7 linked regions of the Homo sapiens genome follow. The protein of the gene in region 3 interacts with the protein of the main gene of each other region in a biochemical or structural test. Each region holds a gene or a part of one and is shown on either strand. Other genes may lie near its edges.

Evidence for each region.
Region 1: of the proteins of CASP3 (region 3) and ARHGDIB, one has a biochemical effect on the other in vitro, tested with the Homo sapiens proteins (one study listed by IntAct).
Region 2: of the proteins of CASP3 (region 3) and RB1, one has a biochemical effect on the other in vitro, tested with the Homo sapiens proteins (2 studies listed by BioGRID).
Region 4: the proteins of CASP3 (region 3) and POLI form a complex in vitro, tested with the Homo sapiens proteins (one large-scale study listed by BioGRID).
Region 5: of the proteins of CASP3 (region 3) and GSN, one has a biochemical effect on the other in vitro, tested with the Homo sapiens proteins (2 studies listed by BioGRID).
Region 6: of the proteins of CASP3 (region 3) and NUCB2, one has a biochemical effect on the other in vitro, tested with the Homo sapiens proteins (one study listed by IntAct).
Region 7: the proteins of CASP3 (region 3) and TXN interact in a biophysical measurement, tested with the Homo sapiens proteins (one study listed by IntAct).

What each region holds. Positions count from the first base shown.
Region 1 is NC_000012.12:14,951,044-14,955,360, reverse strand, and holds part of ARHGDIB (rho GDP-dissociation inhibitor 2), read left to right. Parts: intron 1-4,209; exon of another isoform or gene 4,210-4,317. UniProt on the Homo sapiens protein: Regulates the GDP/GTP exchange reaction of the Rho proteins by inhibiting the dissociation of GDP from them, and the subsequent binding of GTP to them. Regulates reorganization of the actin cytoskeleton mediated by Rho family members.
Region 2 is NC_000013.11:48,477,783-48,482,099, reverse strand, and holds the end of RB1 (retinoblastoma-associated protein), read right to left. Parts: intron 2,122-4,317; coding exon of another isoform or gene 2,103-2,121; coding exon 2,029-2,102; 3' UTR 210-2,028; downstream 1-209. UniProt on the Homo sapiens protein: Tumor suppressor that is a key regulator of the G1/S transition of the cell cycle. The hypophosphorylated form binds transcription regulators of the E2F family, preventing transcription of E2F-responsive genes.
Region 3 is NC_000004.12:184,635,411-184,639,727, forward strand, and holds part of CASP3 (caspase-3 isoform a preproprotein), read right to left. Parts: intron 3,059-4,317; coding exon of another isoform or gene 3,044-3,058; coding exon 2,991-3,043; intron 9-2,990; coding exon 1-8. UniProt on the Homo sapiens protein: Thiol protease that acts as a major effector caspase involved in the execution phase of apoptosis. Following cleavage and activation by initiator caspases (CASP8, CASP9 and/or CASP10), mediates execution of apoptosis by catalyzing cleavage of many proteins.
Region 4 is NC_000018.10:54,275,726-54,280,042, reverse strand, and holds part of POLI (DNA polymerase iota isoform a (long)), read right to left. Parts: intron 2,341-4,317; coding exon 2,188-2,340; intron 1-2,187. UniProt on the Homo sapiens protein: Error-prone DNA polymerase specifically involved in DNA repair. Plays an important role in translesion synthesis, where the normal high-fidelity DNA polymerases cannot proceed and DNA synthesis stalls. Favors Hoogsteen base-pairing in the active site.
Region 5 is NC_000009.12:121,326,776-121,330,682, reverse strand, and holds part of GSN (gelsolin), read right to left. Parts: intron 3,376-3,907; coding exon 3,201-3,375; intron 1,793-3,200; coding exon 1,668-1,792; intron 1,446-1,667; coding exon 1,368-1,445; intron 1-1,367. UniProt on the Homo sapiens protein: Calcium-regulated, actin-modulating protein that binds to the plus (or barbed) ends of actin monomers or filaments, preventing monomer exchange (end-blocking or capping).
Region 6 is NC_000011.10:17,275,595-17,280,355, forward strand, and holds the start of NUCB2 (nucleobindin-2 isoform 1 preproprotein), read left to right. Parts: upstream 1-1,144; 5' UTR 1,145-1,234; exon of another isoform or gene 1,235-1,258; intron 1,259-1,428; exon of another isoform or gene 1,429-1,703; intron 1,704-4,761. UniProt on the Homo sapiens protein: Calcium-binding protein which may have a role in calcium homeostasis. Acts as a non-receptor guanine nucleotide exchange factor which binds to and activates guanine nucleotide-binding protein (G-protein) alpha subunit GNAI3.
Region 7 is NC_000009.12:110,253,533-110,258,390, forward strand, and holds the start of TXN (thioredoxin), read right to left. Parts: upstream 2,976-4,858; 5' UTR 2,904-2,975; coding exon 2,880-2,903; intron 1-2,879. UniProt on the Homo sapiens protein: Participates in various redox reactions through the reversible oxidation of its active center dithiol to a disulfide and catalyzes dithiol-disulfide exchange reactions.

The sequences.
Region 1 (4,317 bases), on a different chromosome or scaffold from region 3:
AATCCAGACCATTACTCTTTTCACTGTCTATAGGGTGATATTAGGAAAGGAATTTTAAATGCTTGTGTAATTGAAATATTTAATATTTTCTTCTATGTCTTAGTTTTTGCACTTGTAAAATGTAATTGTGCCTACCTCACAACATTGCGATGACTGAATGAAATAATGCATGCCAAGCACTTATCCCGTACTAACTGAGTTTTTGGCTCACAAGTGTTCAGTAACAATTTGCTATTACTATTATGGTACCCTTTATTATGCAAAGACCTGTTCAGTGAAAGAAAAATAATTTTATGTCTGGGAGAAAAATAAGTAAAATAAAATAAAATAAAATATGCAGCATCTGTTGGGGATTCACATACATTTTATTTTTTAATTTTTAAATTTCCTTTTAAAGATGAATTTTATTGCATATATTTAAGGTATACAACATAATGTTTAGGGACACACATCGATAGTAAAAATGTTAGTGAAGCAAATCAACATATCCATCATCTCACGTAGTTACCCTTTTTTTGTTTCTGTGCCAAGAGCAGCTAATGTCTACTCACTTAGCATGGGGATTCACATACATTTTAAATAACAAAACACAGACAGATATTCTCTCATATTCACAGGTGAAATAAGGTAACTGAATGGTAACTTAGCTGACCCATGACTGCAGGTCAGGAGAAATATGCGGAGGCCTTAGAAAAGTAATCATCTAAAGATGATGTGCTCTAATCCCTCATCCCCCAAGATGAGGAAACTCAGATCCGCAGTGGTTGCAACATTCAGTTAACAGGGGAAAAGCTAGTTAGTAGGAAAGCCAGAACCCAAACCCAGGCATGCATAACAAGGCCTAGTTCAATGAAGAGAGCATTATCCAAAATCAAACGGAATGACCACGGAATTCTCCTAAGGGTCTACTTCCTGCACCCATGTGCACCTGGGCTTCTCTGCCAGGCTTTGTGGTCATGCGCCCTCAGACACAGGTGTCACCTGATATCTTCTGCTTCAATATATTCAACACTTTGAGCAGGTGGACATGACTCTCAGCTTGAGACTAAGTTGTGTCAATGATCTGGTGGAGCTCCAGGAAAAAGCAAGCTTCTGCCCAGGCACCTGTAATCCCAGCACTTTGGGAGGCCAAGGCGGGTGGATCTCTTGAGCTCAGGTGTTCAAGACCAGCCTGGGCAAAATGGGGAAACCCTATCTCAACCATAACTACAAAAAATTAGCCAGGCAGGTGGCATGTGCCCGTAGTCCCAGCTACTCAGAAGGCTGAGGCAAGACAATTGCTTGAGTCCAGGAGGCAGAGGTTGTAGTGAGCCAAGATAGAGCCACTGTACTCCAGCCTGGGTGACAGAGTAAAACTATGCCTCAAAAAAAGAAGGAAAGAAGAAAGGAAGGAAGGAAGGAAGGAAAGAAGAAAGGAAGGAAGGAAGGAAGGAAAGAAGGGAGAGAGAGAGAGAAAGAAAGAAGGGAGAGAGAGAGACAAAGAAAGAAAGGGAGAAAGAGAGAAAGAGAGAGAAAGAGAAAGAGAGAGAGAGAGAGAGAGAGCAAGCAAAAGCAAAAAAGCAACCTTCCTCTGTAACACTCCACTCTCTGCTTCATGCTTCCATAGTTTTGAGGTTATGTTCCTAATCTGGAGATCTTGAACCCAAATAAGTCTATAAAGGACTTCAGGGGTCCACAAACCCCTGGATCATATGCACAATGTCATGGGTTTATCTGTTTTTTTTTTCCTTGAGATAATTACCATAATGTTTATCAGATTTTTAAAAAAGAGACCTGTAATCTCCAAAAAAAATAAGAAATCAACCAAACCAGGTGGGCCCTTTTGGTATAGTTAGATTGCCCAACTTCCAGCCTCTTCTCTACTCTGAAGAGTAATTTAAACATCAGTATGGCTGAAGTACAGTGTCTTGTAAACAGTGGGTGCTCACCAAATAATCATGACCCTAATTTTACTTTAAAAGGCTTTCTCTGAGAACTGCTCTTCCAGTCCTTTATTTGTTGTATTATTACTCTTTCTAATCAGCTTTCTAGAATGAGCTAGTTTGGGATCACCTGGTCTCATATCTCTTTTTCTTATGCTATAATTAAACCAAATGATTTTAATGTGGCCCTGAATTTCCCCCTTTTGACTGCAACAAAATTTTGTACAGAAATCCCACAGTATCCTCCACTCTTTAATGTCTAGGTAAATTTGTGTCTCTTTTTATGAAACAATTGTTATATCTGTTTGCAATGAATCGAGAAAATGTAGAACATAAGCCTCAGATTTACTGATGAGAAGATCAAGACCTATATGTTAGATAAATGGACATGCCAATGGTCATACTGTTAGAAGGTGGCAAATCTTGTCCTATACCTAATCCCTCTCTCGCTCTCTTTCTCTTTCTCTCTCTTTCTCTTTTCAACATTGAGATTTGAGCCTGCATAGTTGCAATTTCCTGGAGGTTATTGAAATCATCTTGAGCCAGTGACTGGATGTAATGTTACCATCTGATGGCCAGGTTTCATTCAATCAGGCGACTTGTTAGAACCAAGTGATACAGTTCAGAAAGGCCTGACCATGGGGGCTGGGATGTCTTCCTCTATGAACCGTTGTTCCGATGCTCGGTCAGCAGGTTTGTTATGTGGCCCCCATCCTCCGGGGATCACCAGGGTTCTGGGTATGCCCCTGTCTCATCTGATTAGTCTTATCTGGCTTGCTCTTCATTTGCCCCTTAATGAATGTCATTAAATTTCCCACAACCTACAACATCTACACGCTGCCTCCTTCATTTTTTTCCAACCAGTTCATTCACTTTCCCTGAGTGTTGTTTGGAATACGAATTGCATTAGTCACTATGTTTATTCTGCTGTGCTCTAGAGTCTCATCTTTGAGTGGTGCTGTTTCTTCTGCTAAAGCAAGAGTTGCCATAGGAACAGGCCTACATGTTTTCTTCCTGTACAGGAAGTGAACCTGGGCATTGCAATGCTGTTTTCAGAGTTGGTCAAGGCTAGCTCATAATGTTTGGCTGCTTATTTAGATGGAAGAGAATTGATGAGCCAAGGGATATTATTTCTTTGTTTCTCTTTTTTTTTTTTTTTTTGGTTCCATTAAAATTGCTCTCATTTGGCTTTACTTCCAAATTATTTTTCTTCCTCTTGCCAATAATAGTGACATTGAAACTCAAAACTAGAACTGATTTTGGCCAGAGATATCTTCACTCCTGGGAGACTTTATTAAGGTTTGCAGAACCACTCAGGATGTGATGTGACAGACATTTTCTTATAGTTGTGTCACTTAGGAGCAATGAAGGCTTTAACCACAGGCAGGGAAAAGAGTTACCCTCAAGATAGAATTAAGGAAATCAGAAAACAATCTCCTTGCCCAAATATCTCCCCGGCAGCCATCTCATGTGGCTGTCAGCCACAGGGCCTGAAATTCTTCCCAGAGGGACTTCTTCCTCTTGGTTAGTATACTGCCTCTCATCCAGCTGTGTGAACCTGGGCAATTCTCTTAACTCTGGATCTCAATATCCTCAATGATTACATGAACCCCAGTGGTTCATTTCAGCTCTGAAAAGCTGTGACTATACATCCTCTAAAAGGAATAATTTTTGAATCTACTATTCAGTCATTAACCCTTAACAGGTAAATAACTTGCCTAGATTTCTCCTCAATGTTTTAACACAAAACAAGTAAATGTAGATAATAAGAGATGAAGGAAGACTCCAGGGTATGCCCAGGTGGGGCCTTATAAGGTCAATGGAAACCTAGGAAGGGGAGAAGGGGAGAGACTGAAAGGGAAGTGGATCCAGAAAAGGGAAATGGATGGACAAATGCTAAGGGCAAATTTGTACTTACGATTTTGTCTGGAGGAATTTAAACTGTCCTTTGCTATTTTTGTGGCATTTAAAAAGAATAGAATATCTTTAGATATAAAACCTTATATATCAATCAAGGAAATTGTATAAAGTGCCAGAACTATGCAAGTGTTTTAGGGGGAATTCAAGAAAAACAGCAAACCTAGTACCCACCCTTGAGGGGTGATTAGCAGTGTTGGGTGTGAACCATGCAGGCACCTGAGGCAGGTATCATAAAGGTCAACGGTTCGTCATGAGTCATCTTTGAGGCATTGCTGGAGTTCAGGGACAGATTCCATTGATGGGGAGGAGCCAACCATTTCTCTGGCAAGTACTCCACCTCTCTCTTCTCTCTCCTGCCTCTCTCCACCATTATCACTCAGACTGTGCATGCTGCAAGCTTTGACGCTAGCCAGGCTGGCTGGATTTGGAGGACTGTGATAACTCCTACAGCTTTTTGACTGGGCTTTTGCTTCAT
Region 2 (4,317 bases), on a different chromosome or scaffold from region 3:
TAGGAATCAAGAGTTCTGTTGGCTATAAAAGCCTTGACCTCTGTGAAAAGATCAGGGCTGAAGAAATAAATTTGGAAATCTCTAGCATATAGAGCCCCTTAAAGGCTAGGAATGGATGAGATACTAGGAGAGTTATCTTCTATCTATCTTCTCCTAGACAGAAAAGAGAACATTAGTGTACTTAATACAAAGAACACAACATCAGACCATTAAGACTCTTAACAACTAATTTATTTTAAAATAGACAAACTATTAATTGTAGAAAATAGTAACATAGCAATTTTAAATGTACAGTTTTAACCAATACAAAAAAGCAATAAAGCAATAATATCTGAAGCATTATTTAAGAAATCTCAATACACGATCTCTGAAGTTCCTAAAATTCTGGCACTAATTCTAATGTGAACTTAGTAGCAAAAGACCCAGAAATAGTAAGCCCTTGACCTAAAAACTAACTGATTTGTATGATATTCATGCAGAAACAATGATGAAATGGAGTCAAGTTTTCTAGTGTCATTGTTATCAAAATAACTGTCAAAATAGTAAGTTTGAAACTTAAATGAGCACAAAATAAAATTTTGTTTTCTAACAAGACCAGATTTCTTTTTAAAAATAATTCTGAGTTAGACAAAGTGATTTTCCTAAAAGCTAGCTGAAGCTACCTTAAATATCCCCTATTTTAAGTTACAGCATCTCTAAATAAGTTAATCACACAAGATAGTTTAAATACACCTTTAGGTGTAGGGGAGGGGAGAAGCGCCTCTTTTTCTAATGCAGCTGTTTTAATTTGAAGCTTTTGCACAAAATCAGATAGAAACATTAATGCCTAACCCATAATGACCCTTGATTACTTGTAATTTTGGACTAGAAATAATGTGGCTTTGAACATGCCAGTGTTAGACCATACTGACTTAAAAAAATAAAAGATAAATAGACAATTGCCAGTTCAAAAGATACATGGAAGACATGTACCATTCCAGAGAAAACACAAACCTTCCCAAATTAAGGAGGGCAGAATAATTTTGAGATGCAATTAGACAAATCTCTATGAAAAAAAAATTAAGGCTCCTATAATTAACAGTCTGTTTATGGAGTAAAATTAATTTGTATCTTAATTCTTCAGGACCCAGAAACATTAGAAAGTGCACTTGGGATATACTGTGTTAGGGTCCTCTATACCTAAGATCTGGCAGAACACTTTACTTTTTCAAGTACTAGATGGGTACTTTATAAATTCAGTGATCTGAATGGTATAAAAACCAAGAGTACTATCAATAATCCTCATTTAAAAACATAAGTTGGATGAAGAAAATAATCAGTAAGTTCTTTTACATTCTGAGGTATGAAATCTGTTTCAGTAGTATGATAGTATCATATGGTTATACTTTGCTTCCAGCTTTTATTTAATTAAAAGCAAAATTTTATAAAACAAGCACACAGTATATCAGATTCCAATAGTAAAATAAAATCTAATGTGTAAAATTAGTAATTTTTTTCTAATTTCTAATAATATCCATTTTTGCAGAAGAGTTCAGGATAATTTTGGTGAATGGGCAGTCAATCAAATTGCATTTGGAAGATAGATAGGACACATTTTCTAAGGGTGTTCATGTTAAATTAAAAAAATATACATATAAATTAATAAAAACAAGAGCAAACATCACCTATATGCTACAAAAGAAGGCAAAGTAGTCAGACAGGCCTGGGTTATCAGGACTCCCACTCTAGGGCCATTCTTACTATCCATAAAGCACAGCAATTTTACTTTGGAAGAGGAAACAATCTGCTACAACTTTTTAAATGGCAGGATTTACACAAGATTTTCAATCTTGTATAAATAACAATGACTAACATTTCAAGTGGCTTAGGAATCACCCAAACAATTGCATCTGCACATTTTATATCCACAAAAAGAGCTGAAGATATTAAATGTGGCCATAAACAGAACCTGGGAAAGTTATACAGTCACATCTGTGAGAGACAATGAATCCAGAGGTGTACACAGTGTCCACCAAGGTCCTGAGATCCTCATTTCTCTTCCTTGTTTGAGGTATCCATGCTATCATTCATTTTCTGCTTTTGCATTCGTGTTCGAGTAGAAGCTGGAAAAAGGATGAAGAACTGTTAACAGCATTGATGGTACTGGGTAAGTTGGCAAGTGGCTGCCATATATATTATGCTCATGTCAAACTGATGGCGCTCAGGACCTTGCAAAAGCAGTGGTCTTCATTCTAGTATTTGACAGTACCGTAGGGAGTTACAGTTAATTTACTGCATATTTCAAAATAGCTAGAATTGTAATGTTCCCAATGCAAAGAAAAATGTTTGAGGTGATATATATCCCAATAACCCTGATTTGATCATTACACATTGTGTACACGTATCAAAACATCACATGTACCCCTAAAATATGTATAACTATGATATATCAATTAAAAAAAAAATTCCCTCCCCACCCCCCAAAAAAACAGTGGTCTCCAAATCTTTAAAAATCATATATCCCTGTGAGTAAATTTTTTTCCAAGCCTGTACCACAAAAATACGTATGTATGTACAAATTATAAAACACATACCCCAAGCAAACATTAAAATGAGATAAATAGAACTTCTACTTTATGTACCCCAAAAGATGACTTTGCATACTTCAGGTATGCCCCATTTTGTAGGCCACTATTCTAGAGATGAGGTGGTTGATGCTTGGCATATACTTCAGCAGACTAGAATACTCGGCTGGCCCAGACTGAATCTGCCAGAGTGAGTGGTGGTATTCTTTACAAAGCTATAGGTTCCCTTATGTTTGCAGATGCCTTGCAGGTACTGCAAATACATCAAATCATAGCTCATTTAAACTGGGCATGGATTTTTTTTTTTTGAGACAAGGTCTTGCTCTGTTGCCCAAGCTGGAGTGCAGTGGCATGATCATGGCTCACTACAGCTTTGACCTTCTGGGCTCAAGCAATTCTCTCACCTCAGCCTCTCCAGTAGCCAAGACTACAGGCACATGCCACCAGGCCTGGCTAATTTTTGGATTTTTTTGTAAAGATGGGGTCTTGCTATGTTGCCCAGGCTGGTCTTGAACTCCTGGCCTCAAGCAATCCTCTCACCTTGCCCTCCCATAGTGCTGGTATTACAGACATAAGCCATCATGCCTACCCGGGGCATGGCCATGTTAAAAGCATATTATGAATTACAATATAGACAAAGCCGGGATACTTATTAAATTTCTTAAAAATTCTTAACTTGATTTTAGAGGTAGGCATGAGTTCTTTATAAAGAAGCACATTTGGAAAAATGGAATGCCCTTCCATTCTGGGCAATCCAGCATTGTATGATGATCTTTTCTAAATGTAATTCTTTAAGAAAAGCTGAAGAGCATCCTAAAGAAATGCCTTAGCCTCAGGGGTTAAAATTCTGCCTGCTTTGTCACAATTTTGTAGATGCACAAAGGTCCTGAACTTTGGCCTGGCAGAGGAAGCTCGCCATCATAGCTAAGTGTGTCACTGGGAAATGTACTAACTATAGCAACTGAACACTTCTCTAAGAAAATATACATGTTTTTACAGCTTTCAGCTCCTTTTTAAGTGCATATTTGTGGGTTCCAAAATGTTTCCATATGTCTTCAAGGCCTGATTTTGGTTATGAGCCTCTTGTCTATTTTCATGTACTGAGGGGAAAAGATGCAACTATTTAAGAGTTAAAATAGGAATATGTAAGTTGACATAAAATCCAAAAAGAGATTCATTTATAACTAGAAAATTTTGTTTTAGTTATTTAGTTTTAATTACACTTTAAAAAAATACATAGAAAAAAAGCATCCTTTTAAATATCTTATTTTCAAAGTTAGTATCTACAAAGATGTATTAAAAGAAAGCCTCTCATTTTAATTGGTATTGTTCTCATTAGTGTGTCCTGTGACCTAGGAATGATTGTTTTAACACCTATCTCCTGAATATTTGTCTTCTTTCAAAATCCCAGTTCCTTTTCCTATCAATGGATCTGGCAGCAGATACTGGGAAATGTTACACTCACTACCATAACTACCTAAGACAACCCAATAGTAGTTAGTGAACATTTATCTCTTTCCTAATGTGCTTTCCATCTACTATCCTTGGATTATTTTTTTTGTCTAGTCTCAGAGTAGTTTTGAATAGAATTCCACTTACCCTAACATGATATCACTCTGTATAACTTGGAAAATGACATAAGTGTTCTTTATTAAAATTCTGATTTCCAGTAATGGAAACTTTTGTTTGAAATTGTTTTAAGATTTGCAAATAAGGAAAGTTTAAAAATGGTAGAATCAAAGGTTATTCCTTA
Region 3 (4,317 bases):
TGATCTTTCTGTTTAGAAATCAAATAATAGCTTTACAAAGGTAGAAATGACCACGCCTTCTGTTTATATTAGTGCAATTTTTATAACTCACAGTAACAGTTAACACTTGTTGAATGTTATAAACCAGGCTGTCTTCATTTCAATTTCACATCAACAGTTATACAGATGAGAAAATGACCTGACGTGAGGCTAAGTAATGTGCTAAAGGTTATGCAAATATTGTGTCACAGCCAAGAAGGAAGGAAAGCATCTGTTGGACTTCAGAGTTCAGGCTTTTAACTTCCATGTTTTACATTTTCCTCTAAATTCTTCAAAATTTCATCAAATACCTTTATAATTTAAAAATTACTTATTAACTTTGTGAAATATTTTATCCTTTGAGGTAAGAGTAAAAATCTTAAAAATTACCCTGAAATGATGGGAAATCAACAAAATGCAAATATAACTCAAAGCACAATATTTATCACAATTCATAAATTATTCCTTAAACCCCATGAGCTAAACAAATTAGTAATTTATTAATATATAAAAGCATTATTGTAAATAATTGAAAATATCTGTCTGGAAGTCACTTATCTAAAAAAACCTCTGCTATCTAGATTGGGGTCAGTAAACTTTTTTTTTAATGGGCTAAATATTAAGTGTTTTAGGCTTGTGGGCCATCTGGTTTCTGTTACAGCTACTCAATTCTATTCTTTTTTTTTTTTTTTTGAGACATGGTCTGGCTCTGTCACCCAAGCTGGAGTGCAGTGGTGCCATCATAGCTCACTGCAACTTTGAACTCTTGGGCTCCAGTGATACTCCTTCCTCAGCCTTCTGAGTAGCTAGGACTACAGACAGGCATGCCCCACCATGCCCAGCTAATTTCTGTATTTTCTTTTTTAGAGACAGGATCTCGCTATGTTGCCCAGGCTAGTCTTGAACTCCTGGCCTCAAGTGATCCTCCTGCCTTGGCCTCCAAAAGTGCTGGGATTACAGTTGTGAGCCACTGTGCCCAGCCATAGCTGCTCAATTATACTGGTGAAACGGGCTTAGGACAATATGTAAGCGAATGGATGTGCCTATATTCCAACGAAAGTTGATAAAAACAGGCCTTAAGCTTGATCCCTGATCTAGACCAAGAGTCAGGCAAAAACAGGTCTAGGAACTACCAAACACTAACACCTACAGTCCATATACTCATGCACTTAACCTTAAGAGCATCTCACATTATACACAATTCCAAAAATACTGTTGGAAAAAGATTAAATGTAGTAAATTAAAGGAGTCAACGTGAGAAAACAGTTATGATTTTTAACCAGAGGTGAACAGCCTCACATTTACAGACTGAAGTTAAATCCTGAAAGCGTGACTTGACCTTTGAGTCCTACAGATGATGGATCATGGGACTTATGACTCCCAGCTCCCGACACCCCTTCCCCACGTGCTCTGGGTGCCTCCTAAGGAGGTAGGTACTTTACAAGCATATGATAGCTAGTCCACGAGGGGATACTCCTAATAAAAGGCAGAGGCTGTGAAAGCCGGGACTGTGAGGGCAACTTACCAAAGGATCGAAACAACCCTAAACCTGTCTGGGGCTTCCGTGCAACTTGTTATTGAAGTGGTGTTCTGCATGACATGAAAAGGTAGGGCCAGGCAGGGTGGTTCACACCTGTACTCCCAGCACTTTGGGAGGCCGAGGCAGGAGGATCCCTTGAGGCCAGGCATTGGAGACCAGCCTGGGCAACACAGCAAGACCCCCATCTCTACAAAAATAAAAAACAAAAATAACCAGGCATGGTGGCACATGTCTGTAGTCCTAGCTACTCAGGAGGATTACTGGAGCCCAGGAGTGCAGTGAGCCATAATCAGATCACTGCACTCCAGCCTGTCTCAAAAAAGAAAGAAAAAAAAAATAGTAGGAAAATGTGTAAATCACTTTCAAAGGATTTTTTTGAAGAGATGGGGTCTTACTTCACTGTAACCTCTGGCGTGTAGCTAGGACTGACTACAAGCACACACACTATGGTGGACTAATTGTTTTTTGTTTTTTTGTAGAGACAGGGTCTCGTTATGTTGCCCAGGCTGGTTTCAAACTCTCCACCTCAAGTGATCCTCCTGCCACAGCTCCCACGTAGCTGGGATTACAGGAGCAAGCCACTGCACTGGCTAAAATGATTTAAATGACAGCAACAACTCTCTAAAATGGGACTGCATTTTAAAAGTTTACTTTCTAGAAAAATCCCTTTGCTAAACAAAATTGTGAAATCTTTAGTGGTAACTTGTTAATAGTATTTCTGTAATCATATTGTTTAGTAATAAAATTAGTTTGTAATATTCAGGGCAGCCGAGAATAACAATACTGGGTTTCAGAAATAAACTTTCAGAATTTAAAGTATTACGAGAGATCCCAAATAAATAATAACAGACAAGAATTAAAAAGTGAATTTGAGTTTTATCTTTTTCCTTTTTCCATCTGCTAGTTATTGGAAGCATTAATAAGCAGAATATTCCAAAAAGACACGGGGAAAAAAAGGGTAAAATTCATCCATAACTAGGCAGTTTGTCCCCGGACTGAAAACTGGCATTGCATTTTAGTCGTAAAAACTCATAAACAAGAGGTCAAGAAACTCCTCCCAAACCTAAACCCTCTAATCCTATAGAGCGATTCGGGAGGGTAGAAAGCACCGGCGCTTGGGAGTCCTGCCTCTCCTGTGGTGTCCTTTTGGTTCCAGGACTAGGTTTCCAACTATGGGTCACACACCCTACTAGGCCTTTCCTTTCATCTTCCCTTCAGTTCTGTGAAAGTTTTAGCCCCATGTTAAAGACGAGGTTCAGAGAAGAAAAGTCAGTTTATGCAAAGCCACACAGCTGTCTGAGGTAGGAAGTCACTTGGTCTCTCTGGCCTGAGAGAGAGACCACTCTCTTTCCTCTTGCCCCACTGCTCGAGGTTTGCTTATTACACATCCCCATCTTTCTCTGATTATAAAGAATTCAATTTAAATACTCACGGTTCCAAATTTTTAATGGATTTTGAATCCACTGAGTTTTCAGTGTTCTCCATGGATACCTTTATTAACTAGAATACAAAGAAAATAGAAGTTAATAAAAAATCAGTCATAAAACCACTGCATTATATTAATTATCCCAGTGATTATTTTTCCAAATTAATACCTCAGTTCTCCCTCTACTGTTAAAGGTGTATGTGAGTCAGTTCTGGGGATAATGATTTCTTTGCAATGGTACATACAATTTAGCCTCTCTCTCTCTTTTTAATTGAGCTATGAATTATATATAGTGAACTACATAAAGCATATAGAAAGTATACAGCTCGATTTTTTATATTTACATACCCTCATCAGATCAAGATACAGATTACAGTTTATTTCTTTTGTAAGACAACACCTCGGGTCATTTCTAAGAACTGCAACTCAACACAGTTAAAACAAAAATCAAAAACTTCCCACCACAATGGTATAACTCACATAACACAATTCTACAATGCTTAGATTCCCAAGATACAGTATCAAGATGTTCCAAATCTCCATTAATCTTTATTCTTTTTTTTTTTTTCTTTTGAGGCAGGGTCTCACTCTGTCACCCAGGCTGGAGGGCAGCGGCGCAATCACGGCTCACTGCAGCTTCGATCTCCTGGACTCAAATTCTCCCGCCTCAGCCTCCCGAGTAGCTGGGATTACAGGCATGCACCACCATGTCTGGCTAATTTTTGTATTTTTTGTAGACATACGGTCTCGCTGTATTGCCCAGGCTGGTCTCAAACTCCTGAGTTCAAGTGATCTGCCCACCTAGGCCTCCTAAAGTGCTGGGATTACAGGCAAGAGCCACCGCACCCGGCCTAGTCTTTACTTTTAAAGTGGGTTTTGGAAGCCCAGCTTCTCATTTAGGGTAGTAAAATGGCCCAGGAAATGTAAAAGTAGAAACTAAAGTTTCTGCTTTCATTCTTCCATTACACAATTATATCTCACAAGGTGAACCAGTTCTTAGAATCAAAGCAACTATCACTTATTGAGCACTTAATATATACCAGGTACTTTGCAAGGCACTCAGTTTTAATCTTTTCAAAATTCTAAACGTCAGAAAACCCAACTTCTGGTGGTTAAGTGACTTTGTCGACAGTCACAATCTAAGTGACAGGGCCCTCTTCCCACTCTGCTATGCTGCCTCTGAAGAAGCCAGCTCCTTACTACTTTTCTGGAGTTCTACCAGGCATTTTCTGGCTTTTCGAAGCAAAGGTACTTCCCATGGCAATCCACCTCCCTAAATAGAGGAAAACAAGAACAAAGGCAAAACAAAAAACAAAAACAAAAAATACTGAGT
Region 4 (4,317 bases), on a different chromosome or scaffold from region 3:
CAAGGGCCTGTGATAGTGACTGTGTAGTGGGAGTGCTTAATAATTAACACATTGTGAAAACTGATCTCATAAAAAAATTCCTACTGACATTGGCAAAACTTTTACTCATATTTACCCGTAAGTAGGCATAGAAGTATTATTATATAACAAGAAAGCTAACATTATACTTTAAAGATCTAAATCTTAACCACGCACTAGCAGTATATGCTGCTAGAAACAATCTCTGACCTGTACACAGTTTTAGAGCTCTTTTATGAAAAGTGTAAGAAAATTATATAAAAATAAATTTGCTTTAGGTGTAAAACAGTGTTGGAATGACATGAAACCATCCTAACCTCAAAGAGACTAACGCTAAAAGTATTTAGAGATGAAATGTCAGGATGTCTGCAATTTACTTCCAAATAGCTCATCAACCAACCAAGCAATCCATAGAGAGAACAAGAGAAAGCAAATGTGGCAAAACGATAACAACTGGTTTATCTACAAGAAAGGACATAATGGGCCAGGAGTAGTGGCTCATGCCTATAATCCCAGCACTTTGGGAGGCCAAGGCAAGCGGATCATCTGAGATTAGGAGTTCAAGACCAGCCTGGCCAACATGGTGAAACCCCGTCTCTACTAAAAATAAAAAAATTAGCCGGGTGTAGTGGCACATGCCTGTAGTCCCAGCTAGTCGGGAGGCTGAAGCAGGAGAATTGCTTGAACCCAGGAGGTGGAGGTTGCAGTGAGCCGAGATCACATCACTGCACTCCGGCCTGGGCGACAGAGTGAGACTCTGTCTCAAAAAAAAAAAAAAAAAAAGAAAAGACATAATGGGTATTTTTTGTACTATTCTGTCAACTTTTCTGTAGGTTTACAAAAAATTTTAATAAAATCTGTATGAAAGAGGAAGAATTAATCAATAATTCCACATTTCCCTTTTTGGGATATAAAACCTAGCTCTCTATAATGTACTCTAACCAATAAAATCCAAGTTTGCCTTAAAAATTATACAGAAATATATTTGAAATATTCTTGCTAGTTAGCCCTTTTAAGTTACAAATGAGCACAAGTACAAAAGATACAGGAAAAGCTCCATGTATTCTAGAAACTGTGGTTCTACTGCTTTTCTTCTGTGGAGAACTATTCTGTAGACCGATGTCTAGTTCTCAAAAAAGAGGATAAGAGGAAATGCATGGGGAGGCTTAAGAGCAAAAGGGTCAGACAAGTCTTACACAACAGCAGAGTACCTTGTCTTGTATGTGGTATGATAGGGGAGTCACCAGCAGAGTCATAAGATGTCTGAAAGCCTAATCAGATATTCACTGGTGCTTACTGCAGCTTATTTTCAAATGTAAATATCACTGGAAACACCATCAGTCATTCATATCTCAATATATGAAGGAGACAAACCATTCTGCTTTCTTGCTAACTTTGACAAAGATTATTTGAACAGATTAAATAGGAGCTTGGAGAAGATTCTAGCACATGGCAGATAGCCCTGGACAACATTCCAAAAGTGCTAACTTGGGAATTCAGAGAGCAACATGAGGGTCTCAGGGGAATCGAAGTGAACATGTAAAACACACATCAAAGGGGAATCGAAGGGAACATGTAAAAGACACATCAAAGGCAAATCTAGCCTACCTGAAAACTCTGCTTAGAGATTGTTTTAGAATAATAAAAAATTATTCCAAAAAGCATATTAAGAAGCCAACTCTTACAACTTAAGAATGACCTACAGAGGTATGGCTTTTTGTTTCCTTAAGAGATGGGATCTTGCTCTGTTGCCTAGGCTGGACTCAAACTCCTGGGTTCAAGCAATCTTCTCAGCTCAGTCTCCCAAACAGCTGGGACTACAGGGGCGCTCCACTGTGCCCAGCTGGGTATGGCTTTCTAAAATGGGAACCAATGCACTGTGTCAGACGAAAACTCTGCACAGATGAATGCTCTGTGCAGATGAACAGGAACAATGCTCTGTGCAAATGAAAAGTGCACAGAGCATTGAGCTACATGTCATCAAAATCTTAACACTTATTATGGAATAGCAGCACCTAATTTTAGCTGTCCTAGACAGATTACTGACTAAATATAACTATACCTCCAACAAAAGTCATGAATCTTTCAGAATCACACAGCGAACTCACTGAACATTAAGAAATGTATGTACTTTTGGTTAGTAGGTAGAATGAATAAGAACCCACTCACACTGATTATTGTATACATGACCCGACACAGTCACCGCAGAAAGTTCATCACTTTGCAGCTGCTGTAGTCTCTTCTCAACCATTTCTGTTAGATCCACAAAATTTTCATCAAATCCAAGTCTCTCAACAACTGGACTAAATTCTTCCAGTAATTCTAAATTGAAATAATATTGGAGCACAAATGTAAATGAAGTTATAACTAGGATAAATTTAACTATCTAGTGCTTAAAAATTTATCAAATTTATTGTTAAAGGTTTTATATACATTCATAGTTCCATAATATCTTTAATAAAGCCCTCAGTTAATTGACGTTTTTTCTGTACCACATCTTGTATAAAGGCAATATTTTCAAAAAAGTCTAAAAATGACATTCCTAGGGCAGTTATTCATGGCAATATATCTAGCTCAATCTTCTACACCTATAATTTTTATATCTGTAGTACATTAAATATCAATGCTTATAGTAAATTGGTGACCTTGAAGAAATGTGTCAAAGAATAAACTATAGGCTGCTCAGGAAAGTTAAAAACAAGTAATAGTATATTTTAGCTATATTTTCTCCAAGAGTTTAAAAGAGGCAAAACAAAATAATATTTAAAATGTCCAATTATTACTGAATAAAACAGAAAGTCAGTCAACTTTCAAAATATACTATAACGTGGTATTTTTATTAGCCATTCCCAAGAATATTCCTTAGGACAGAGAGGCAGAGATGAACCACAACTTACAGGTATTCAAATGCCCAGCGTCTAGCACAATATCTAGTCCTCAAGTCAAATGTTTACTAGATTAAGCTGAACCAAAATTCAAAATAAATTCAAAAAAACTATCAATTTTCATATATTAACATTGAGACTAATAACTTTAAAATCATTGAGAAAGTTTTTCACTTCCCTCTGAATCACTTTCTACTGACACCAGCTGGATAAGAGAAAACAAATGCAAGTCTCTTAGTATACAAAAATGCATAGATTCTTAAGGTCATATAATCTGAAGCTCAGAAATAAAAGGACTATCTCATTCCACATAGATCATGTTTTTTCACAAACACCAAAGGTGCTTTTTTGTTTTGTTGATGTCAACATTGACAATGTGAGGGGAAACCAATAAAGGTAACAATGTGACATGGCAAACACCAAAAATCACTCCTGAGAAAACTATTACCTAGAGAAAACTATTACCTCCTTTCAGGACAGACTGACAATATGTCTAATCAAAGAAAATGATTGTTTTGCATTTCCTTCATCAATTTCGGCAATTTATTTTCAAAAGTATATACCTGATATGCAAAGTAACATGTAGAAAACAAGAGTTTATCAAAAGAATACTACATAAGAAAAATAAAGGATAAGGCTTTAAGCACTAAATAGAAAAGCAAGTTAAATACAGAATCATGCACGAAGCTGGTGGATCACTAAATATTGACTGATTTTAGGTCACAGGACAAATCCCTAATTATCCCGTCCCTGAAGGTTTTTGTTGTTGCTGTAGTTTTAATGAGACAGGGTCTCACTGTTGCCCAGGCTGGAGTGGAGTAGCACACCACAGCTCAGTACAGCCTTGACCTCCTGGGCCCAAGCAATCCTCCTACCTCGGCCTCTGGGACTGCAGGCACATGCTACCAGCTAACTTTTTTTTTTTTTAACTTTTGTAGAGACAGGGTCTTGCTATGTTATATTGCCCAGACTGACCTCAAATGATACCCCACCACAGCCTCCCAAAGTGTTGGGATTACAGGCATAAGCCACCATGCCCAGCCTCCATTCCTGAAGTTAACCTCTTTCTTGGTATCAACTTCATAAGCAAGATACATTTATTAAACATATAATTATATAGGGCCCAAAAGAGGAGTCTGTAATTACAGAAAAAAAAAATACCTTGAAGAAAGGTATATATGCAGTAGCATCAAAATATGAAATAAATAATAAGGTTATAAACAGATCAGAGATAAATACAGTAAAGGACTAACTGGCTACGCGCCTACTTCAACTCAGAAAAATACTGTGAGAAAAATTGATAAAGTAACTTTTTTCAAAAAATACCTAACACAAAAAGTACTAGGTACTTAGTACTTAGAAAAAGATGAACAACCCAAATTAAAAACAGGTGCAAGTGAATACGTTAACAGAA
Region 5 (3,907 bases), on a different chromosome or scaffold from region 3:
ATCATCTATTTTTATGCATATCTAAAATATTACTTCAAAGAGCACCTATCATTGATAAAATGGCATTAGACAATAAAATGTCAGACTTCATTTTTCTCACTTTTTTTTGAGACGGAGTCTCACTCTGTCACCCAGGCTGGAGTGCAGTGGCATGATCTCAGCTCACTGCAACCTCCGCCTCCTGGGTTCAAGTGATTCTTCTGCCTCGACCTCCCAAGTAGGTGGGATTATAAGCACCCACCACCAAGCCTGGCTAATTGTTTTGTATTTTTAGTAGAGATGGGGTTTCACCATGTTGGCCAGGCTGGTCTTGAACTCCTGACCTCAAGTGATCTGCCCACCTCAGCCTCTCAAAGTGCTGGGTTTACAAGTGTGAGCCAACATGTCTGGCCCTCTCTTACTTATTTATAAATGTGTTCCCAACTAAAGTGGAAGCCCCTCGAAGGCAGGCATTCTATTTTGCTCATCATAGGATTCTCAGCACTCAGCATTTTGCCTGCAAGACCATGGTGCTGAATAAATGTTGGCTGACTGAATCCCTAACAGATGAACAAACAGATTAAGTAGCCAATGGATCAATCAATGACAACTGCTGAATGGCTCAAGCTGCAATCATTTTTGGTCCCGATCTTCCAACTGGGGATTCCGAGCATCCCTGTGGGTAGTGTAGAGTCTTATGCCTTCGTGGCCAGCTGCTCCGTAACTCTGAGGACTCTGGGAGAAGCCACCTTGATAGGAAAGGTGACTGACCTGACACCCCTGTGAGAACGTAAGCCCTGGGAGAGCAGGAAAATGCCTACTTTATTCATTGCTCTATCCCAGCATCTCAAACATAAAGCACCTGGCACAAAGCAGTGCCCAATTAATATTGGTTGAGTAAGTGAATGGCATCTTCCCCTGCCAAGTCCTACATAATGGCCTTCTCTAGGAGATGAAGTGGAGACAGAGCCCAGAGCCCTCAAACCAGAAGCAGGAGCCCTCTAGAGCCTCTAGGTGACACTGGACAGTTTATGCCTGCAAACAAGATGCTGCTAAGTTCAACTTCCTCTGCCAACAGATTTAAAGGAAGAGTTCACGCTCCTGCAAGGTCTGGGAGAGAATGATGAAGGTCATGTGATTTGCCTTTATAGGGCGTTTTGCAGCTTTCAAGGTGAGTGTATCTGCAAGGGAGGTACCGCCACTCCCAGTTTACAGATGAGGAAATGGAAGCTCAGAAAGAAGAAGTGACTTCCAGTACCCTTAGAGACTTTTCTGGCAACACCTGGCACTGCCCCCTTTAGGTCCTTCTAGCAACTGATCATAGAACTGGAAGTCTAGTTTCTCCCACTCCCTCTGGCACAGAGAGCCTTCACCTGTCCTTCACCCACCTGGTCCCAGGTGTCCAGAAGCATGACGTCATCCGTTGCCAGGTCTTCCTGCATGAGCTCACCAGGAACCTCTTCGATCTGGGAAGGAACGAAAGAGCATCAGTGAGATGTCTTCCCTCCCCTGGGTGGCCTTCCTTTATCTGCCCCCTGAGGGAGTGGCACAGCTGGCTGCAGCTGGCAGGGGGCCCCTTCCTCTGTGCCACACCATCAGAACTGTTTCTCCTGCCCCTGCTGCCGGCCAGTCCTGTGGAACTCGCCTCCCGAGGGGAAAGCAGAGGTGTGACCTCCGCAGGGGCTCACCACAAAACGTCCAATCTTGTTGGAGCAGGCAAAGAGGCGAGGAGGATGGGCATCCATCTTCTTGTCCTTCAGCCGTGGGGATGTGCGGTAGGCAGCCTTCCCGCCCAGGGCCTCCCAGAAGCCATCTGTGAGGGGAGGCCACGCCAGTTGCCAAGGGACGCCATCACCCCTCTCTCCCATCTCATCGGACCCTGGGACCAGCCCTGCCCAAGCGCAACCAACTGCTCTCCCTCTCCTCCCTCCATCCTAAAAATCCCAGGAGATCCAGAGGGAAGAGGCCTGAGGGAATTGGAAGGTGACGAAATAGAGGCCCAGAGAGGGCAGACTTGGCAGTAGTCACACAGCCAGGACCACTATTGGCTTGAGGCTGACGACAGCATTGCGGGATGAGGACCATTAGCTCCACTCAGCTAATGAGGCAGTTGTGGCTCGGAGAGGTTAAGCAACTCACTCAAGGTCACACAGATGGTAAGTGTTAAGACCAGGATACAAATCTTGTCTGATTCTAACACCTATACTCTTTCCACTATACCTGCTCTGTCCATGTGCAGCCATTTAAATTTAAATTCATTAAAATTAAATTCGACTAAAAGTTCAGTTCTTCATTCCCACTAATTCCCACTGGTCGCATTTCAAGTGCTCAACAGCCACATGTGACTAATGGCTGTCAAATTGGACTCGGCAGATACAGAACATGTCCATCTGCATAGAAGGTTCTGCTGGACAGAGCTGCTTTAGACCAAGTCACTCTTCACCATTTCTGTTAAGCATCAAGCAGGTGGGAATGAACTCAAAGTAACAGTATAAAGACTGCAGGCTGGCAGAAGGAAGAGCTGCCCGGCCCACATTCTGGAAACAGAGCAGGCTGGTGGCATTTCTGTCCATGGAGAGTCTAGAGATGCAAGGAGACCACTGCTCCTCTGACGCTATCAGCCCTGCCTACCACCTTTCAAGGCTTCCTAGCGAGGGACCGCCTCCTTCCACAGACCAACTGCTCCTTCCCACACTGGGCTCTCCTTTCTTTCTTTCTTTCTTCTTTTTGAGACAGAGTTTTACTCCTGTTGCCCAGGCTGGAGTGCAATAGCGTGATCTCAGCTCACCGCAACCTCCAACTCTCGGGTTGAAGTGATTCTCCTGCCTCAGCCTCCCGAGTAGCTGGGATTATACAGGCATGTGCCACCATGCCCGGCTAATTTTGTATTTTAGTAGAGATGGGGTTTCTCCATGTTGGTCAGGCTAGTCTTGAACTCCCGACCTCAGGTGATCCGCCCGCCTTAGCCTCCCAAAGTGCTGGGATTACAGGCATGAACCACCACGCCCAGGCTAGGCTCTCCTTTCTTTAGCTCCTGGAGACCTCCCTCTCTCTGGCCACAGCCCTCATTTTAATGCAACTGCTTTTATTTAACATACATTAGGGGACAGGCCCTCAGGTGGGATGGAGGGGAGGATTTAGAGCCCCCAAGCTGAAGGAAAGAAGGGGGAAACTTAATAGCTGCATCCGGACAGCAGCAGGCCCCCCACCCCGGCTCCTACCTGGCTCGCTGCCTTCTGCCACCTGCACAGGTTGGGCCCGCAGCACCCTGAGCAGCTCCTGGGCCCCCGTCTTCTCTGCCTCGCTGGCTCCTGTACCCACCCACAGGTAGGCGGCTGAGGGGGTTTTCAGAACAAAGGCATCGTTGGAGTTCAGTGCACCAGCCTTAGGCAATACCTGGGAGGGTACAGCTTGGTTAATCAGGAACCAGACAAAAAGCCCTCAGCCCCCTCCTCACAGCCCAGGAGACCCCGCAGCAGGACTAGCTCTCAGGTGGGGACTTGGAGGAACACAGCCCATCAGAGCTGAGGGCACAGACTTTGGACCCTGATGGCCTTGGTTGACTCCCATGAGTCACTAATGCACTGTGACTAGCCAACATGATTCTAAAAATCAGGGCTGCATTAACAGAAGTTGAATGCCCAGAACAAAGGAGGTGAGAGTCCCATTCCCCTCTAGGCTGCTCAGACCATCCTGGGAATCAAGTCCAGATCTGTGCCTTCCTCCGTGAAAGGGATAGTAGGCAACTGGAACGTAATCAGGAATGGCATGCTGATTGTACAGAATGGTAGGTAGTGAGCTGTCCACTGTGCAAAGTGTGCAAGGGACACTGGGTATCCTTGAAACAGGGGGGAGTCTAAGACAGACAACCCTGTGGCCACGGCAGGAAAATACAAAAAGCTGCTTCTTACCCCGTCATTCACCATCC
Region 6 (4,761 bases), on a different chromosome or scaffold from region 3:
TTTGTTTGTTTTTTTGAGACAGGGTCTCACTCTGTGGCACAATGATCATGGTTCACTGCAGCCTCGGCCTTCTGAGCTCAAGTGATCCTCCCGCCTCTGCCTCCGCCTCCTGAGTAGCTGGGACTACAGATGTGCGACACAGCACCTGGCAAATTTTTAAGTATTTTCTTCAGACTGAAACATCATTGTGTTAAAGATAAAAAAGTAAAAAATATTCTTGTAGAGATAGGATCTCACTGTTGTCCAGATTGGTCTCAAATTTTTGAGCTCAAGCCATCCTCCTGCCTTGGCCTCCCAAAGTGCTGGCATTACAGGGTGAGTCACCATGCCTAGTCTGTACTGTTTTCCTGGCAATGTTATCTCATTCAATCTTCGTGAATAACCCTAAGGTAGATATGATACCAATTTTTCAGGTGAAAAAAACTAATCGGCAGGATGAAACTTCGTAAACAGCCTGTGGCTCCAAAAGCTTCTGGAAGGCTCAAGCTACCCATGTGCATCTTTGAGCCTCAGTTTCCCCATCTTTAAAATGAGGGGTTTGGAATAGATGTCTGTTCTCTGGGGCAGGATGCAGAGGAAAGAGCTGTCTGCGAATGGGCAAGAGAGAAGGTGGGTAAATACAGTTAAACCACAGTGACCGAGGGCCCAGCACAACGGGGGTGGGTGCGGTTACAAATGCCGTTAAGATTCCCGCCAAGGCGGAGGACGGGGGTGTCAGAGCCGAGCGAGGCCTGTGGGCGAGAATAGGCCTGACAGCCATTCTCCGACCTGCGTGGGCGCTGCAGGCGCAGGCCAGAGGCCAAGGGAGAGGCGATCCCTGGGGCTCTGCCCGGGTCTCAGGACGGCACCTCACCCGCCCGAGTCCTGCTCCACAGGATTCTCCGGGTAAGCTAGGGAAGGAAGAGGCGCGGCCTCCTGAGCCCGCATCTCAGAGCGCCACGTCCCTCCTGGCTCAGCCTCCCACCAGGCTCCACAGCTTCGGCCCTCCTCACCGCCCGCCTCCAGGCTCCCCGGCGCGGCCTTGTCCCTGCTCCCGCCAATCGGCGTCGTCAGCAATCGCGAACCGGACCAATCAGCGGCCGCAGAGTGTGGGAACTGTCGCCATGGCAGCCAGGAGGCGGGCGCGCGCGGCGGGAGGAGGGGCAGAGCGGAGCGGTGGGCCGGGGGCTGGAGGACAGGTTTGTGCGCTGGACGCAAGCACCAGGCGCAGCCTCGCTCGCCGAGACCCGGCCAGGTAAGGCCGGTGGCCGCGCGGTAGGTGCGGAGCAGCGCGGCGGGAGATTAGGGGTGGGGGAGTCCGGAGATAAGGCTCCGGTCTTCGCCTGCCTTGCCAGAGCAGAGAGGATGGTGGGGGCCGTGCTGTGGGCGGGGCACCGGCGGGGAGGGGGCTCCCAGCGCGAGCCGGAGGCGCTGGGTTCCCTCTGCTCCACTCGCAGCTGGGCACCCGAGCTTTCTTCGGGGTCGAGGAGGGTGGCTGGCTCTTGGCGGGGAGCAGGAGAGGGTAGGTGCCAAACCGAGACCCTGGCGGGGTCCCTTCGGGTTTGGGCAGGTCGATGGGCAAGGGGGTGCCCACTAGTGAGGAGGGACACCCACCAATTCCAGGCGATGCTCCCCTGTGCCGCTCAGCAAAGCTAGGCCCGGGGATCCTGCTCTTCTCCGGTCTGGTTAAGCCAGCAACCTCTGACACTTAGGAGAAAGTTAGTGTAAGTCGTGATATGCTTTTCACTTAAGTGACAAATTAGGTACGAGATGAACCCTTTTGGTTTTAGGAGATGAGAAACAGTATTTCCTTGTTGCACCTGCTAAGTGGCAACTCAGTGAGCAAATATGGTTATTGTGGTTGGTGTTTGCAACGGTCTTAGATGACAGTTATTTTACAGTATCAAATGGCTGGGAGAGGGAGGGAAAGAAGGAGAGAGAGAGAGAGAATATGAGGGAATGAGAATGAACGGGAACCATTATGATTTTTGAGAGACAGAACCTCTTGAAATTCTATGTCTGCTAAACTTCTAAATTGAATAATGTACATTTTATGCAATTGAATAAGCTAGTGCTACCATTTAAGCCTGCTACTAAGGCTCTGTTAAATCCGTGGACGAATATGAACACTAAAAGATATTACCTTGGTTTAAAAATAGGGGAGGTTAAATGCAAATATTTCTGATAGTGAATTTTGTTTGAGGGAGATTGTGGACTTTCCCTATGGGAAAGTTAAAGAATTGATGAGATAGATGCTTTAAGGAATGTTTTTGTTTTTTGAAACTTGAATAAGTTCAACAAATGTTGAACAAATATTTCAACAAATCTTCTTCAGCTAATAGGGTCAAAAATTAAAATTCTGGAAATTTAGAATTAGAAATGAAATCTCAAATAATGTCACTCTCCTAATTAGGATGAACATGGAAACTTCTATTTCTCATCGTGGTCTTCAAGCTTTCCATGATCTCATCTACCTTTGTAGTAGGGGGTCAAATTTTTTTTTTAACTAGACAATTTTAGAAACTTAAAGGAGGCAAAAATTTATTTCTGTCTCCGTGTGTTTACTCATGCTCTTCTCTATCCAAATTTTACCCATCTTTTTTTTTTTTTTTTTTTTTTTGAGATGGAGTCTCACTCTGTCACCCAGGCTGGAGTGCAATGGCCCGATCTCAGCTCACTGCAGCCTCCGCCTCCCGGGTTCAAGGGATTCTCCTACCTCAGCCCATCGAGTAGCTGGGATTACAGGGACCCACCACCACAGCCAGCTAATTTTTTGTATTTTTATTAGAGACGAAGTTTCACCATGTTGGCCAGGCTGGTCTCGAACTCCTGACCTCAGGTGATCCACTTGCCTTGGCCTCCCAAAGTGCTGAGATTACAGGTGTGAGCCACCGTGCCTGGACGACCCATGTTCTAAGAGTCGAATCTGTCTATGTTGTGTTTACCTTTCTTTGCTCTCCCAAGGTACATATTGTTCATATCACGTATTTTGTATATATTCTTTCAGCATGCTTTTTGCCAAGTTGGTTTGCGCTCTGTGAATAACAGTTGAGATAAAATGCACAATTAAGACAATTAAGGTACTTTTCAAGACACAACTAATTATGGGCACTAATATCAATAACATCAATTCAGATGTCTTTTTTGTTTTGGGATATGTTATTAATCTCTGAACACATACTAAACTAATTTTGCATTACTTAGAATAATATGTAAATTACTTTCCACTTTCTAAGGACCCTTTTGAAGGCTGGGTTCTACAAAATACCCTTTTGAGTACTGGGTAGCTGGCAGAAGCAAGTGCAGGATTTAAAAATGTATTGAAAATAATCCTTTAGGCCGGGCATGGTGGCTAATGCCTGTAATCCCAGCACTTTGGGAGGCTGAGGCGGGTGGATCACTTGAGTCCAGGAGTTCAAGACCAGCCTGGCCAACATGGTGAAACCCCGTCTTTACTAAAAATACAAAAATTAGCCAGACGTAGTGGCGGGCATCTGTAATCTCAACTACTCAGGAGGCTGGAGCAGGGGAATCGCTTGAACCTGGAGGCGGAGGTTGCAGTGAGCCGAGATCGCGCTATTGCACTCCAGCCTGGGCAACTAGAGTGAAACTACGTCTCAAAAACAAAACAAAAAACAGGCTACTAACAATTTCAAATAATTTATTCAAGGAAAAACTTCAATCACTTTCATTATTTCCAATCAAAAATTTTTTTTACAACCATGATGTGGTGAAAAGTATACTTAGTTAGAATTTCATGGCCAGATTCCAGTACGGGCTCTGCCAAACGAACTTGGCCAAGTCAGTTAACTTCCTTCTGTATTTATAACCTTTTATAAAAGTAGGGCTGAATTAGATTACAGTAGTCCTCCTTTATCCTAGAGGGATATGTTCCAAGGGTCCCAATGGATGCCTGAAACTACAGGTAGTACCAACCCTTATATACGCTATGTTTTTTGCTATACATACATAATAATAAAATGAATAACAGTAATACACTGAAATGAAAGTTATATGAATGTGATCTTTCAAAATATCTTGTTTTACCTCAGGTAATTGAAACTGCAGAAAGTGAAATCGCAGATTAGGGAGGACTACTGTACCTCCAAGATTATTTCTGATCTTAGAATTCTCTGATTCTAAAATCCTAAAGCAGCCTAATAGAAGTTCAGATAGTAGTTACTTGATTTTATTTTTGGCAGAGCATTTTTTTTTTTTTTTTTTTTTTTTGAGACAGGGCCTCACTCTGTTGCCCAGGCTGACTGGAGTACAGTGGTGTGATCATGGCTCACTGCAGCCTGGAACTGCCAGGCTCAAGTGATCCTCCTACCTCAGCCTCCTGAGTAGCTAGGACTAAAGGAGCATGCCACCACACCCTGCTAATTTTTAAGTATTTTTTTGTAGAGAAGAGGCCTCGCCATGTTGTCCAGGCTGGTCTCAAACTTCTAGGCTCAAGCGATCTGCCTGTCTTGGCCTCCCAAAGTGCTGGAATTACAGGCATGAGCCACTACACCTGGCCTTGGCAGAGTTTTTTTTGGCAGTGTATTTTAATTATCTGAAGTACAGTATATGTAAATAATAAAGAGATTATAATTTTAATAATATGTTTATTGAGTGATACAGATCTGTTTTTCATAAGCCTATAATCTAGGATACTCCAATCCGTTGTTAAGACTGGAAAAAAAGGAGATATAATAGTTTCATTGATGAGTGTCCTTTTCTACAGATGTAGACAACAGAGGCTCTAAGATCTATACTAATGTCTTGATCAGGGAAAAGCTG
Region 7 (4,858 bases), on a different chromosome or scaffold from region 3:
ATAGACATTTTTGTTTTTTTAACATGATTAACCCTTATTAAAAACTTGAGATTACTTTCAAGAGGGAAGGTATTTCAAACATACTCAAGGCTTTTCCAAAACAGTTCTGAATCAAATTTAAGCACAAGTACCTAAAATTCTGAAAAGAGGCACGCAACAATAACTTTTAGCCTAACTGAACATGAGTTACACCCCACGTATGTGCAGGCTTCATGTACAAATTCTCTTCTGATACTTCTAAACGGGTATCAGCTTGAAAATTATTCAAGATTGTATTACTAAGAAGAAATCACAATTTCTAGCTCCCAGAAACTAACAGGATTAATAAATGTCTCCATCACTGACACCAATAATCTGGGGGAAGCAGAACAGTGTAGTTGGGGTAAATAGGAGCAAGAGTCTAAGATCTCGTTGCCTCAACATACCTACTCTGAGGGTAATAAGTGTGAGTGGTTTCTGAAGTACTTAGCCAAGTGCCTTGTAGATGGGAGTTCAATAAATGGTAGGTGTCATTTTTTTTAAAAGTGTTTATTTCTTCCTCATCACATTTACAGTCAATTATTCCATTCCTCTCTGAAATAGATCCCAGTTGGCCCTAAAGCACCAACAGAGTACCTCAGAAACAGAATTGTTCTGAATGGCAAATGGTGCAAATTTAGCCCATTAGGATGAAAATGTAACATGTATTCAACATTTACAAATAACAGGCTGGGCGTGGTGGTTCACGCCTGTAATCCTAGCACTTTGGGAGCCTGAGGTTGGTGGATCACCTGAAGTCAGGAGTTCGAGACAAACCTGACCAACATGGTGAAACCCCATCTCTACTAAAAATACAAAATTACTGGGCATTTTGGCAGCGCATGCCTGTAATCCCAGCTGTGCAGGAGGCTGAGGCAAGAGAATCGCTTGAACTCAGGAGGTGGAGGTTGCAGTGGGCCGAGATCGCGCCACTGTACTCCAGCCAGGGCAACAAGGGCAAAACTCCATCTCGAAAAACAAACTAACAGACAAATAACAATCAAATTAGTGTAACTTTCGATCAATGACTTTGGATTGTTATTTTGAGGATTAATTGATTATCAGGGCCTTTGGGCCCCAGGCTGTAGTGCTTTTTTTAAAGTTCCTGTCACCCTTGTACACCTTTGTCACTGGTAGAGGAGGAAGGTGCTCTGACATGCTCTGACAACTGGGAGGACTAAACTGTGTGCTCCAGAAATCCTAATCAACTTTGTTTGTAGTGTCTGGATTTTGGGACAACTAACATAGACCACTCAAAGGTCTTCTGGCTCAGTGGAGGGGGTTCTTAGCAGTTGGGTTATACTGAGGTTGCCAGACCCTGGAGAACAGAATCCCAGCCCCACTCCCTTCCCCAGGAATGGATTAATAATTTGTCACACAATAGGTGCTTGGAAAAAAAGTATATGAAAGACAATTCACTACTAAGGATCTTTTCAACACATGAGGGCTGCTAAAATGAGAATCCCACTAAGAAAAAACTGATTGAGAGGAAGATAAAAGATGACAGTGGCAATCAACATATGAGGAAAAAACACTGAGAGTCAATAATAATCAAAGGAACAAAAGGATCGGGGACACATTGCAGACACACTTCTGTTTCCGAAGCCCACCCGGCACCAAACAGGTCAGGGCACCCGAGGCGGGCGAGGACCCGCCCTCCTCTGCTTCCCGCAGGTAGGGAGGGGTAATCGCAGGGTAGGCGCTGGCGAGGGGTCTTCTACCGTTCGAGCAGTATCAATTTCCTCCACTCACTTTTCTGACGCTGCATTTAACAAATATTTCTGGAGTGGCTACATTGGACTAGACACTGCGCGTTAGGCTCTGGGTTTCCCAGTCTACAAGGTTTTAGGCTTGCAATAACTTTCAAACATGGGAAGGCTGTTTCGCCTTGGGCATTTTTAAGAGGACAAAACAACGATCGGGATACCGATAGGTCGGCGAGCAGGCAGCAGGGCGCGGCTGCTCCCAGGAGGAACCCTGGCTCCAGCAAAACCCACCGACTGAGGGTGAATCATGGACGGGCAGGGCAGCCGAGGCCCCCGGGCCCAACCTTGGGGACTCAGTCATTCCAAAGCCACTGCTGCCGGAAACGCGCCCTGCGCCACAGGAGTCCCGTGGGCGCGGCCCGGACCTCACTTCCTCGCGGTCACCTGGGGCCCTCGGGCCTCCTGGACAGACCTGCACGTGCCAGGGGGTCTCCAGCCGCAATCCGCCCCCTTAGTGCGGATACAGCACGCGTCACCTTTGGGGTCGGGCATGGGTGGAGGCAGGCGGGGGTCTCCGGCCTAGACCCGCTCCCAAAGGGAGATCACTACCCCCGCTGCGGGTGGATCACTTCACATACGGAAAGGCAGCGGCGGCCACCGACCCGTGCCTTCTGCAAGGGCCCTCCCTATCCTTGCCTGGGGCCTGAATCTGGATACAGATGGGGGGCCAAGGGCGGACCCCTTCCATTCCCTCATCTTCCTCCAGTCGGGGCTGCCCGGACGGGAGGGTGCAGGAGGCGCAGCGTGGGGACTCCTCACGCTGTCTGCGCTCTCACATCCCCCGGACGCTCCCCGCGTGCGTGCAATCCCCCGAGGAACAGGGTGCGAGAAACGCTGGGCACCGCCACTCCGCCCTCCAGGGGACCCTCGTCCTTCTCCTCCCTTCCTCCAGGGCAGGCTCCACCGCCTCGGGCGCGCCCAGGCCGCTGCTTCCCGCAGTCCCAGGCCGAGACGCCGCGTCCCTTTCCCCTGGCGATGCGGAGGGGCGGCCTCCGCACCTCCCGCCACCGCCTTCCCCACCTCCCGCCACCGCCTTCCCCAGTTACAGAGGCCGCGCGCGGCGCCGGCACCCTGGCCTTCCCCGGTAGCGCGTACCTTGCTCTCGATCTGCTTCACCATCTTGGCTGCTGGAGTCTGACGAGCGGCTGTAAGGACCGATGGAAATGGATCCAAAGCACCAAACAGAGCTTCAAGACTCGCTGCTTGCTCTCTCCCTTTATAAACTGGCACGCCCGGCGTGCGTGTGGCGGGGGCGCGCGCGCCCGGCCGGACCTCCGCGCCCGTCGCTGCGCCCCGGCCACGCCCCGCCCCTGGAGCCTGCGAGCCGGGATCGGGGCGGGGCTGGCGCAAGCGTGGGGCGGAGCTCCAGGGCTTCGGCTCCTGTAACCCCAAGCCCAGCTCGCACTCCAGCTGGAAGTGGGGATCAGCACTGCGCGTGACGGTGGGAGGCGGGGAGACGGACAGTCACCCCCAGAGACACAAGGTCCCTCCCGGGTCACCTGGGGATGCGTCCGCCGGGCCTGAATCGAACACGCCCACGCTCGAGATGGGGACCGCCCAGGCAGGGCTGGATTCCTCGAAAAGGGCCGCCACGCCCCGGCCCCCCCAGCCACGTGAACCCCACAAAGTGCTGAGTAACGGTGACCGGGAAGTATCTCGGTGTGTACGTCCTTGCCTCCTCTCCGGAATTTACCGTGACCGTTCTCTTCTCTGTAACCTCCTTCTGTTCTTTCATTTTCACTGCTGAGCCCGCTGCTCCAGCTTGACACAGCGGTTTAGTGCGGTAGAAACGACCGGGGGACTGGTTGGGCTCTTGACCATCAGACAGCTGCGTGTGAGATGGAAGTGCCACTGGGTTGAGCTCTGCAACTTAGTTACGCAGTTGTGACCCTGGAAAGGTCCTGACCTCCTGAAGTCTCAGTGTTTCCTTCTGTAGAACGGGAATCATGATGGTCTCAATCTCACGGTGGTGGTATTTTGAGGGTTAATAGTGCTTGCAAAGGACGGTGCTTGGCACATAGTAAACACTCCATAGATAGTTCTTACTGTTCGGTGTCTTGCAGGGACTGATTGGGCCTGGCCACCTTATACAGCATTTACAATGGCACAGCACGCACACTTGTGTGAGATTCTTCTAACAGAGGCAGACTCCTGGAACAGAAGTCGGAGTTTGCATTGATCCAGGAATGCCTGTTGCAGGTTATGTCTGGCAGGGCTGGGGATTGTGGAAGGTGGGTATGTTAGCTGGCCTTGTGGAGCCAGGAGGGCCTGTCAGCGGCTGGAAGTGGAGGTTGAAAAGCTGCTCACAGGAACGAGAGCTAGAAGGCTGGGAGGGAGAGTCCCAGGTCTGTGTTTTCAGAGCTGAGCTGTTCCCGATGAAGCTGCAACTAGGTGTGATTGCCTAGGGGTGGTGATACTGCTGCCTGGCTGCCCCCTGAAATCCCTGGCTTCCTTCTTTCACTCTTTCAGACAGAGGAAGGGAGGAAACCAGAGGTTTTGAATCTATTGTGCAAAGTTTCTAGGGGGCTGAGGAGCACGGAGCATGAATATGGATATAGGCAAGGGACACATTCTAAAGACAGCCCATAGGGAGGGAAGACAGACTGCCCTGAATGCAGCAATGTTCCCAAAGAGAGGGAGGTTATTGGGGCAGAGAGGAAGGAGCTGTATGGAGCACCCAGAGCAGAATCTATAACCTGCTTTTCTGCTGCTGGGTTTTCAGTTCAGCTGCATCCCAGCTTCCTGACTTTTATCTGTTTGTTGGTGAATTTGCATGGGTGATAACAACAAATCATTGAGTTCCAGGAAGGGGCAATGCAGGCCATCCTCAGCTGACTTCTCTCCAAAGACCTTCCAAATGTCCAGTGACTCAGTGAAGGAGGTACTCCCTCTCTCCCACCTCCACAGCACCAATGCAGAGTAGATGTGGAGGATGGTACAGTTATAAGGAACTGGGAGGCCAGTCTGGACTCTGCAATTTGACTCCGTTGTCCTCATCCCTACTCTACCACTTCATGACTGGGTAACTCTAGGCAAGTCTAAATAGCCTTTTTGTGCCTCAGTTTCCTTATGTG